2 separate regions of the Homo sapiens genome follow, and region 2 is linked to region 1. The links come from fine-mapping of genetic effects on gene expression. A gene starts in region 1. The other region holds a variant in brackets. All regions are shown on one strand. Distances are from middle to middle. Region 1 holds the start of BTRC (beta-transducin repeat containing E3 ubiquitin protein ligase). Region 2 overlaps FBXW4 (F-box and WD repeat domain containing 4).

Evidence for each region.
Region 2: its variant is fine-mapped to the expression of BTRC in sun-exposed skin (GTEx, PIP 0.93).

What each region holds. Positions count from the first base shown.
Region 1 is chr10:101,351,740-101,357,109 of GRCh38, reverse strand. It overlaps BTRC (beta-transducin repeat containing E3 ubiquitin protein ligase), which reads right to left and starts at 2,945. Exons shown (of 15, transcript NM_033637.4): 1 at 2,882-2,945. The coding sequence starts at 2,929. RefSeq lists a silencer at 2,722-2,901 and an enhancer at 5,170-5,370.
Region 2 is chr10:101,609,476-101,614,808 of GRCh38, reverse strand. FBXW4 (F-box and WD repeat domain containing 4) reads left to right here. Exons shown (of 9, transcript NM_022039.4): 7 at 2,332-2,472; 8 at 3,040-3,181; 9 at 3,399-4,143. The coding sequence ends at 3,518. It overlaps DPCD (deleted in primary ciliary dyskinesia homolog (mouse)), which reads right to left. Exons shown (of 6, transcript NM_015448.3): 6 at 5,147-5,333. Among named protein-coding and RNA genes, the nearest start is that of MIR3158-2, 11 kb to the right of the region's middle. RefSeq lists enhancers at 708-1,241, 1,242-1,775, 2,933-3,433. The variant G/A (reference allele first, on the strand shown) is at 2,061.

The DNA of each region.
Region 1 (5,370 bases):
TCGCCCAGGCTGGAGTGCAGTGGCGCGATCTTGGCTCACTGCAAGCTCCACCTCCCGGGTTCACGCCATTCTCCTGCCTCAGCCTCCCGAGTAGCTGGGACTACAGGCGCACGCTGCCACACCCGCCTAATTTTTTGTATTTTTAGAGAGACGGAGTTTCACCATGTTAGCCAGGATGGTCTCGATCTCCTGACCTCGTGATCCGCCTGCCTCGGCCTCCCAAAGTCCTGGATTACAGGCATGAGCCACCGCACCCGGCCTATCTTCCTTTCTTAAAACTGACTCTGAATAAACAGACATGTTATAGCAGGGTAAATGGCACCAAAGGGAAGTTGTGACTTACTCAGATTCATAAGACTGTTACTGCACTGAAAGAGAATACCCAATCTCAAACTCTCCATTCTCTGTTTCTTTTATTAAGGTGTCATTCTGGTGACCCTCTTCTAGTTGACCTTTTCTCAAATGGCAGCCAAAACAGCAGGCAAGGTCAATAATGAAAGTAACTAAAATTAAAAGAAAAAATTGGCTTCTCCCTATGAAAACTGATTCAAGATTTAATAATGTGTGGTGCTCTAAAAGCTGCAACTACTATATGGTCATCTCCAAGTCCACTTTAACTCAACCAGGGAGGCCATTATCAAAACATAACTCACTGGTACAAAGCAGAGATTAAGTAGCTGAGAATGTTACTAGGCTGAAGTCTAACTGAGAGTAAAAAGGATGATCTCATAATGTCTCTTTATGATCTGTAAATCACATTATTCCATAAATCTGACACAAATGTCAGGATTAGGATTAAGAGTCAACCCTCTGCTGGGCGCTGTGGCTCACACCTGAAATCCCAGCACTTTGGGAGGCCAAGGTGGGCGGATCACGAGGTCAGGAGATGAGACCATCCTGGCCAACATAGTGAAACCCCGACTCTACTAAAAATAAAAAATTAGATGGGCGTGGTGGCCCACACCTGTAGTTCTAGCTACTCGGGAGGCTGAGGCAGGAGAATCGCTTGAACCCAGGAGGCGGAGGCTGCACCACTGCACTCCAGCCTGGGCGACAAAGCAAGACTCCATCTCAAAAGAAGAAAAAAAGGAGTCAACCCTCTAAGTAGGAAAACAAAAATAAGCAGTAACAGTTTTCTAACTTAAGTGTAGTAACTTTCACTTACTTCTAAAGTCCAGTAAAAGTTCAAGGTCTCTTCTTCATATTTAGAATTTTAATGTTGGGCAGAAATCCAAGAACCTTCTTCAGGCTCAATGAAATTTTGTTAATGATACCCCTGAATTTTAATTAGGTGTTTTCGAAAACACTAATGCAAGATAAAGTTTTAGTGAATTTGACTAGATTCCAAAAAAGTATTCTTATAAATGGGGCAGTTTAAAGTCTAAAATTCAATTTTGTTAGTATCCATGTTTATCTGGATTTGTTACGGTATTTTAGGCAAAGATACAAAATAGCTATTTTTTTAAGCAAAGGAGTAAGATTTGGAGTGACAAGTCACAATAACTTCTGAAAAAGCAAGACTGGACTGCAAATAATATCAATGTCCCTAAGGCCACCTGTTAAGCTTAAAATCTATGCATTCCATCATTCTTTAGTTGTAACCACAAAGTCTGGTTTTACACCTAGGAAATACAAAAAGCATCAGATTAAAAGCATCAAATATCAGACTATACGAGTTTGCCAAAGATAAGCACAGCAAAAAGAAAAGCGTGATACAAAGTTAAAGAAATATGTTCCAAGGGGTTTAAGCACACCCACAAAATCCAATCTTTGCTCACACTGTGCTTCAACCTAAAACTGACGGGTAACCACAAATCCTGACTTATCCCTGACTTACTTCCCTCTACCAACCTCCACCCTTTTTATCTCCTAAATTTCTCAACTGATCTCATCACTTCTTATGGGTCTTTGCAACTCTCATCTCCACGGCCTTTCCTTTCCCAGAAAATGATACAAAGCACCTGGCCTCCACATTTTACCGTCCCACAATTTACCTTTAAATTTTGTTTTGCTTACCCTATTAGATACTCATTTTGCCCCAATCTCCTGTACCCATGTTTCCCTGACAATCTGCTCTTACTTTTCATCACCTTGTCCTTATTACAGTATTTAGCTTCTCCTTTCAAAGTAGCGTTATGTACCCCTCCCTGACATTTGTAATTCTAGCTTACAGTCAACACCCTTTTCCCCTCCCAGGGACTGTCATTATAGCCCTAGGTCCTCATTCCCAGTCCTTATCTTCTTTAGTGAGGCCTCTTCCCTTCCAGAGTTTGTCAACAGTAGTTTGGCCAAGCTGGGATTCCACCCTCAAGGCAAAGGCTATCCTCCCTCCTCATTCTACAAAACTATAAGCCTCTCACCAGCCCTAGCGTTCCCTCCTCCACCCTTAAATCCATCTGCATCCAGCCCTGCCCGTTCCCCTCTACCCACCGTATCTGTCTTCACTCTATCCCGCGCTCCCTTCCCCAGTCGTGAATGCACCTCCTCTCCCGGGCCTTACCGGTAACCCTGACACCAGGAAGGCCCCGCCAGCGGCCTCACGGCGTTTCTCCAGAGAGCTTCCTCCGCTTTTCAGTAACAGTCCCCACGCCCCTTTCCCTCCAGGGCCCCGCGCGCCGCCTGGAGCCCCCTCCTCGATTAAGCTCCCGCTGTCACTTGGCCTCTCATCCACAAGATGGCGGAGCCGCTGCCCCCACCCCTGGGTCCGCTCCGCAACCCCCAGCCTCCTTTCTGGAGCTCCCATCCCATCCCTCCAGCCGCTCCGCCGCCAGCCTCGGCCCAGGGTCCCGCTGCCCGGTCCCGCAGTGGGCGGGCGGCCCAGGCCAGCGACGCCGCCAACGCCAGCGCCTCCACCGTTCCCCGGCCTCCACCGTCTCCTCACCATAAACTTGAGTGCCTTCTCTTGCAGCACCGCCTCGGCCGGGTCCATAATCGCCGAGGCCACTGGGTCCGCTCTCCGCCGGGGCCGCCCCTTTGGTGCCAGGCCGCAGCCAACGCAGCGCCCGGATCCCGCCTCCTCTTCCTTCCCCCCGCCCTCTCTTACCTCTCAGGCGCAGGCTGAGGGGCCAAGGAGAATCGGCTTCTCCGTGCGCAGGCGAAAGCCCACTGGCTCACGGGATTTGTAGTTCTGGAACTTCCCCCAGGAAAAAAACTGAGGCTACGCCGTGAACCGCAACTCCCACAGTTCACTGCGGCAGCGTTGCGGTTGCCCACAAGCCAGATTTAGATAAGTTGCCATTACGCAGAGGAAATCGGCTGATGGGAATTGTAGTTTACAGCCTCTAAGGATGAGAAACGGGAGGGGCACGGGTGTCTCCGTGGTTACCGAGCGACGCCAGTAGCGGCTTGCCTGGCATTTGATATCAAGATGGCGGCCAATGCCTCACTTGTAGCCCAAATACTAAGAAAAACTGTGGCAAGAATCACGGGTCCTAGGACCTGCCTAACTGTGGTTTTAGGAAGCTGAACGTCCCCAAATTTCATGTATCTGGCATCTGCAGGTTTGCGACCCAGAGTAGCTGGGCCAATGGGCACCTGGCAGCAGCTCACAGACAAATGCGGAATTTCAAGGTCCTCCTAAGCCATCGCCACCCACACTTCTCCCGAGGAATCTTTTCTCCCCCACAGCAAGTCAGGGCCGAATAGAACTCGGTTCAAGAAATTCTCAGTGTTTAGAGCTCAAAAAGCACATAACTTGCTATTGCTAACTGTGGGATGTAAGCCCTGCACTAAGGGTCAAACAGGTACTTAACAAAAGTCCTTCAACGGTGGAATATAATGGCCTCCAGCAAATAAAGCATATAAATATTTTCTTTGGCCTGAAAAGGTACAATATGGGTTTATTTTGGAAATTGGGTCTACCTTAGGAGGAGAAAACTCTAGGGTTTGGTTAAAAGTGATTTAGGTTGTTTTAAGCTGCTATGTTTGTGATAATTGGTTATACAGCCTAAAAAACTGACACACACCCAAATGCCCCTCAGCAGGTGGTTGTATGAACAAATTGTAGCATATTCCATATGTAGCACAGTGGAATATTACTTAGCAATGAAAAAGAACAGTATAACAACAACAACAACAACAAAAGTGATTTAGGGCCAGGCGCGGTGACTGACGCTTGTAATCCCAGCACTGTGGGAGGCTAAGGCGGGTGGATCACCTGAGGTCAGGAGTTCGAGACGAGCCTGGCCAACATGGAGAAACCCCCGTCTCTACTAAAAATACAAAAATTAGTCGGGCCTGGTGGCACGCGCCTGTAATTCAAGCTACTCGGCAGGCTGAGGCATGAGAATTGCTTGAACCCGGGAGGCGGAAGTTGCAGTGAGCCGAGATCACGCTACTGCACTCCAGGCTGGGCAACAGAACGAGACTCTGTCTAAAAAAAAAAAAAAAAAAAAGTGAGTTAGATTGTGACAGCCTTGTACAAAATATCTGAATTTATAAAATAAATGAACTAGGAAAATACTTTTTGACTTATAGGAAAAAATCTCCATTTTAAACTATCTTATTCACTCAGTCATCCAACAAATGGTAAGCATATAACCGTGTGCAGACATCATCTCAAGAAATAGGGATTCATCACTACTTGGGTGGCTAAAATATCAGACTTCACCACTATAATTCATCTATATAACCAAAAACCACTTGTACCCCAAAAACTATTGAAATAAAAATAAAAGTAATTAATTAAACAAAAAGAAAAAGGAATGGGGATTCATTAATGAACAAGACAGACCCAGTTATTTCCTCGTGGAGCTTACACTTTTACTCTGTTGATACTTTGTCCTAGCCCCTATATCCACAAAACTCAGCATGATACTTAATACATAATAGGCTTTCAGTTAATAAAAAGTTTTGTTCTTGAATTTTTAAAAAAATTCTACACAAGTGCAAAATGGAGAAGACTTCAAACGCATTCGTATGAAAACTAGCTGGAGGTTTTCAGAGGACTAAGGCAGTAACAGGATGGAGTTACAAAAAAAATAAATAAATAAATAAATGAAAAGATAAGGTGGGATGATGGTGCAGCCACTGGAAAAGAGTATTCCAGGCAAAGGTAACTGCATTTTTGGTGATTGATTCTGAGAACCAAAACAAGATCAGTGGGACTTTAGAGGAAGAGTGGCCCTAGATGAGACTGCAGAAGAGTATGGGGCTCTATAGGCAAGCCATTATTTAGCCGGCATAAACTGGTCAGATAAATCAGCTGACATGCTTTCTAAACTGGCATCAGGGCCTGTACCTTACCAGATATAAAATACCTTGACTTTCACTCCAGCTTATAGGCCAAGTTCAGTCATTTAGACTGTATCCTGAGAGCTGTGAGAAACTAGCTGAACAATTTAAAAAATGGTCAGATTTGCATTTTCAGAA
Region 2 (5,333 bases), 260 kb before region 1:
ATGGGCCTTTTCCCAGAGCCTGGCGTGTCAGTTTATGCTCTGAACTTAACCTCACGGGCACCACACAACAGAGCCTTGAGGGTCCTGGGCCCAGGGGCAAAAGAAATTGTATCTTTTCATTGGCCCATTTAAAGTGTGTGTGGCCATTTTAGAGAACCAGAGAACAGCACAGCAGAAAGAAACTTCTCAGCCCCTGCCAGGCTGTGCGGGCAGAGCAGGGGCTCTCAGGACTTGTGCTGGCCTCCAGGGCCTGGTGCTCACTGGGCCCTTGGCTCTCCCCCCGAGGGCAGGGACCCCTTGGGCTGTCCTGTATTTCTGACTGCAGATACTTACGGCCATGACATTTTCCAGTGGTGGCATGAATGCTGGGGTAGGGGCCCAGCTTGGCAGCCCAGTCTGGGTGGGCCTTTTATACTGCTGTCCCTGTGCAGCCCCATGAGTGCCCAGCTCTCCTTCCCTCTGAACCCAGGGACCAGGGTGGGCAGGTAGAGCCATGCTGGGCTTCAGTCCTCCCAACCCCCACTGCCTTTCATCTTCTATTTCAAACAAACATGAAATTACTTCTATAGATTAAAGGGGAGAGCTCCTCAATCATTCCTTAAGGCCTCACTAATGGAGGGGGCAGGGCCCCCAAATCTGGAAGAGGGAGGAGAACTGTGGAGCCAAACAGCCCCTACCCAGCATGCACCCAGTATACCTGTGAAAGAGAGAGAATGACTCCCCTACAGGGCTCTGGCCTGCCCAGGGTGGCTGAATCTTGGCTGGTGGCCCATCTGGGAAGGCAGGGCTTCTCTGGGAGCCAAGGTTAGCAGTCTCTAAGGGATGCTGATCTGGGGAGAAGGCCTTCTGCCTGATCCCTCTCAGGAGCCCCCCAACAGACAGAGGCTTGCCATCTTCTCCCCGCAGGCCCAGCTCTGGGCTACTGAGAGGAAGACCAGAACTTCCCTGAGGAGGCTGGTAGCAGGGGTGCTGCCTTGGGGATTAATTCCCCCCTGGCAGCAGCAGTGCTCCTGGCCAGGGCCCACTGCCCAGGGCTCAAAGGGGAAAGGTGGAAGGGGCAGAAAGGAACCCCCAGTCTCCTCCTTTGATTCCTTCGGCCTTCGGGAAGATGGCAGCTCTGTTGGGGAGAAGGGAGGTTGTGGGTCAGGGTCTCAGTGAGGTGGAAGGACGAGAGCTGACATCTGCATTCAGACATGTGGCTGGCTGCCTTGTCTGCCTCAAGCCCTTTGCTGACATGCTACTTGGGCCAAAAGGGCTGGTGAGCCATGAAGTCCCCTCACTCCATGCCAGGGCCTCTTACCTGGACATCCCTGTGAAGTGTCCACGGCCTTGTTTCTCCTGTCATGGCATGGGGAAAGCCCAGCGTCTCACGGGTAAAGGAAGCTAAGGCATCAGGCCTGGAGGGCGCCCCTTTTCCTTCATTTCCCCCAGTCATTCTGTGGAAACTCCATACTTGCACCCATCCCCTGGCTGCAGGGATTAGCGGGTGCACTTGATGTTGAGGGGTAGTTGCTAGGGACAGGAGGCCCCCCTACATAGTTGCTAGGGGTCTGGCATCAGGGCAAAGGGTCTGCCCACTGCCGCGGTCACGGAGGGAATTACACAGTCACAAAGAAATTGTTCTCAGTAATCTGCTCTCGGCCCCCGGGTGGGGTGAGGGTGGGGGGAGCAGGCTGGAGCCCCACAGGCTGGGGGCTGTGATCACGGAGGCGTGCTAGCCCCGGGCTGGGGGCCAGCTAGACCAGGAACACCAGGGACAGCTCGCTAAGCTGCTTTCTCAGCGATTTTTCTCCCCAGACACAAAGGTGTTTACTTGTTTTAACATCTCCTGGGACTCCCCTTCTCCCTTTGTGTGGTCTTTATCCCCAATGAGGTTTGAGCCCCAGATTACAGGCAGGAATTAAGGCATTGGACTCAGGCAGCTCAGAACTGCATGACCTGCAGGATCAAGATGTATAAAGTAACCAAGTGTGTGTGTGTGTGTGCATGTGCATGTGAATGTGAGGGGGGCCGACCCCTTCAGCAAGCCCCCCCATTCATTGTCCTGAGGAGGAGTGGCT[G/A]GGTGGGTGGCAGCCGGCACGCAGGTGTGATGGAGGGGCTGCTGAGGGCTGGGATGCTGGGGGAGGGGTGGGGCCTGGGACTGGTTGCAGAGGCCTCATGGCAGGGGTGAGGTGGGTAGGAATTGGGCATCTCCTCCCTGAGCCCCCTTCCTTGAGTCTCATTCTAGCTGAGGAAAGAGAACATTTCCCCAAGGTCTGATGCCTTCTGAAGGTGGAACGAATGTGTATGACCCACGTGGAGCAGCCTCTCACTCCGTCCTTCCCTTCCCAGTGGGCAGCTGATGACACACTTGGGCAGTGACTTTCCCCCAGGGGCTGGGGTGCTGGATGTCATGTATGAGTCCCCTTTCACACTGCTGTCCTGTGGCTATGACACCTATGTTCGCTACTGGGACCTCCGCACCAGCGTCCGGTGAGTGTGCTGGGCAGGGAGGACAGGTGGTGGGGGCCCTGCACCAATCCTGGTCCTTCCTCCAGTCCTGGGTTGGCCCATGGGAGAGGGCACAGAGACTCCATGTCAGGGCTGGGAAGGAAGAGGCCTGCAAGGTCACTAGACTTCCTACATTTGGGCAGCCCTGGTCCCAGTGGCTTGGCTATAGCCAACAGGCCTTGGCAAAGGCAGGCGTTTCCCAGAGCCTCTGGAGCCGTCAGGGTACTGTCACTCAATATTCTCTCCCAGCCTTTCTTGAGGCCTGTGTTACTTCAACCTTTCTTGAGTCCAGTGACAAGTAGCTGGCCATGTGAAAACAGAAGTGCAGGCATAATCTGCTGTGTCGTCTGGGCCATGGCGAGAGCCCTCTACAGAAGATGCTTTCTCCCATGAAGTTCGGTTTTTGATGAATCTGATGATTTAGGCTTCTTTCTCTTCCATCCCGGAATGGCTCCTTAACGCTCCCCTCAGCCACTCTAGGCCCAAGAAAGCTGGGGTAGAGGTGGAGGGTACCCTAAACCTCCCTCTGCTTCTCCTCTTCCTGGACAGGAAATGTGTCATGGAGTGGGAGGAGCCCCACGACAGCACCCTGTACTGCCTGCAGACAGATGGCAACCACCTGCTGGCCACAGGTTCCTCCTACTACGGTGTTGTACGGCTGTGGGACCGGCGTCAAAGGGCCTGCCTGCACGTAAGTGTCCTGCCCACCTCTTCTCCAGCATGCCAGGACTCATGATTATGGGCTGCATTTGGGAGAGGGTGAGGTAGCCAAGGACGTGCCTAGAAAGGGTTGGAAGAAGCCTACAATGGCACACGTCCCTCTTCCCCTGGGCCTGGGGATCCTGGGTTAGGGCACACCCATGTCCCACTTGGAAAGCTCTTACCACTTCCTGTGCCCTCCCTTCCAGGCCTTCCCGCTGACGTCGACTCCCCTCAGCAGCCCTGTGTACTGCCTGCGTCTCACCACCAAGCATCTCTATGCTGCCCTGTCTTACAACCTCCACGTCCTGGATTTTCAAAACCCATGACCGTCAGGGCCACCCCTGCCTCTGGGCCAGGGAAACCAGCTACTCAGGGACTTCTCTTGCCTGGAGGGTGCAGTGATAGCTCCTCCTCACTGCCCCACTGTGCTCCTGGGCCTGTGACCCCAGTGCTCAGGCACCTTGCACTAGAGGCTTCTGACTCCTGGGACTTTGGAGCTTACCAGAGATGCAGTCCCTCCCAGGAACCTGTTGGAGAGGCAGGACCTGCTGCTTTAGAGTGCGGCTGAACCCGGGCCTTGCGTCCCTGTTTGGCCAGAGCAAGGATCTGGCCTGGAGAGGCCCATCCTATACCCCTTATTAGAGCCATGACAGCCTACAGAGTGAGGTGAGGTGCTCCCACCTTCCCAGATGGTTCCTTTCTGCCCCTTCCTGGAAGGAAAGGTGAGGCTGCCAATAGCCTCCTGGCACCAGCCAGACCTCACCCTTGACCAACCTCTCGGGGCTGGGGGTTCATTCCTGGGGCACTGTGGCCTGGTTTTGCTTTGAAACCAAGAAAGAGCAAAGGGAACCCAGCAGTTCTGAGTGAGTTCTGAGCCAGCCCTACCTCAGGCTGGCTGTTGAGACATGCTACAATTTTCATTTTTGTAAAAATAAAGCTTGATTGTTCACAGATCTGGTTCCTCACTGGCTGAGTAGTCCTAGCAGGCTCCAGGAGAAGGGAACAGCAGACCCAAGCTCAGGGTTGTATGTGCTGCTGAAACGACAAGACCAGCCTCATGGCTCTGTGTCCCAAAGAACAAAGGTTTCTTTTTTTCAGGAAGAGTTCCCATTGATGACCTATCCCTTACCCTTTGGGGTATGGAGGGTCACCTGTGGGTTTGGAGAGGGGACTGTGGAAAGGGTACAGGCTGCTGGAAGCTCAGTTGTTGCCTGTGGTGACCCCTACCCCAACACACACCCTTGGCAAAATTATGACCCTGATTCTGGCTTTTTACCCACAATGCCTTAACATCCTGTGTTCTACTTCCAAGGTTTCTGTTTTGTTTTTTGTTTTTGTTTTTTTGTTTTGTTTTGTTTTGAGACGGAGTCTTGCTCTGTTGCCCAAGCTAGAGTGCAGTGGCATGATCTTGGCTCACTGCAACCTCCGCCTCCCAGGTTGAAGCGATTCTCCTGCCTCAGCCTCCCGAGTAGCTGGAATTACAGGCATGCGCCACCATGGCCGGCTAATTTTTGTGTTTTTAGTAGAGACAGGGTTTCACCATGTTGGCCAGGCTGGTCTTGAACTATTGACCTCAGGTGAGCCGCCCGTCTCGTCCTCCCAAAGTGCTGGGATTAAGACGTGAGCCACTGCGCCTGGCCGGTTTCTGCATTTTTAAAACTTTTCCCTTGCCCACACATCTTCAGGAGTTTCCTCTGAGCCACTTCTGCAAGCTACGGTAGCACAGGGTCCCTCCAGCCTGGTCTTCCTCTGAGTTTGTGTAAACAGGTTGCAGGGAAAGGCCAGCCCTGCCCTGCTAGGGCCATGTGCTCCCACCCTATTCTCCCTTTTTGTGGAAAGCTTTATGTTGTAGGTCTCCGGGATAGAGAAAGGAATGTCATCACACCCTCCCGAGGGAGGCCAGTGGGGTCTGGGGCCAGGCAGCATACAGAGGGGAACAAGAGGGCAGTCCCTGTGCAGTAAGTAACTCAGAATGACTTTACTCAGGAAATATGACCATGACTCACTGGCTAGGAGTGCCCCATGCCCAGTTCTTAGAGACCCTTGATAGCTCCTAGAAGACAGGAGGCTGCCGTGGTCAAGAAGGGCCAAGCCTTGAAGTCTCACGGCACCCCCTGTGGTGGAGGTATAAGGCTCAGGGG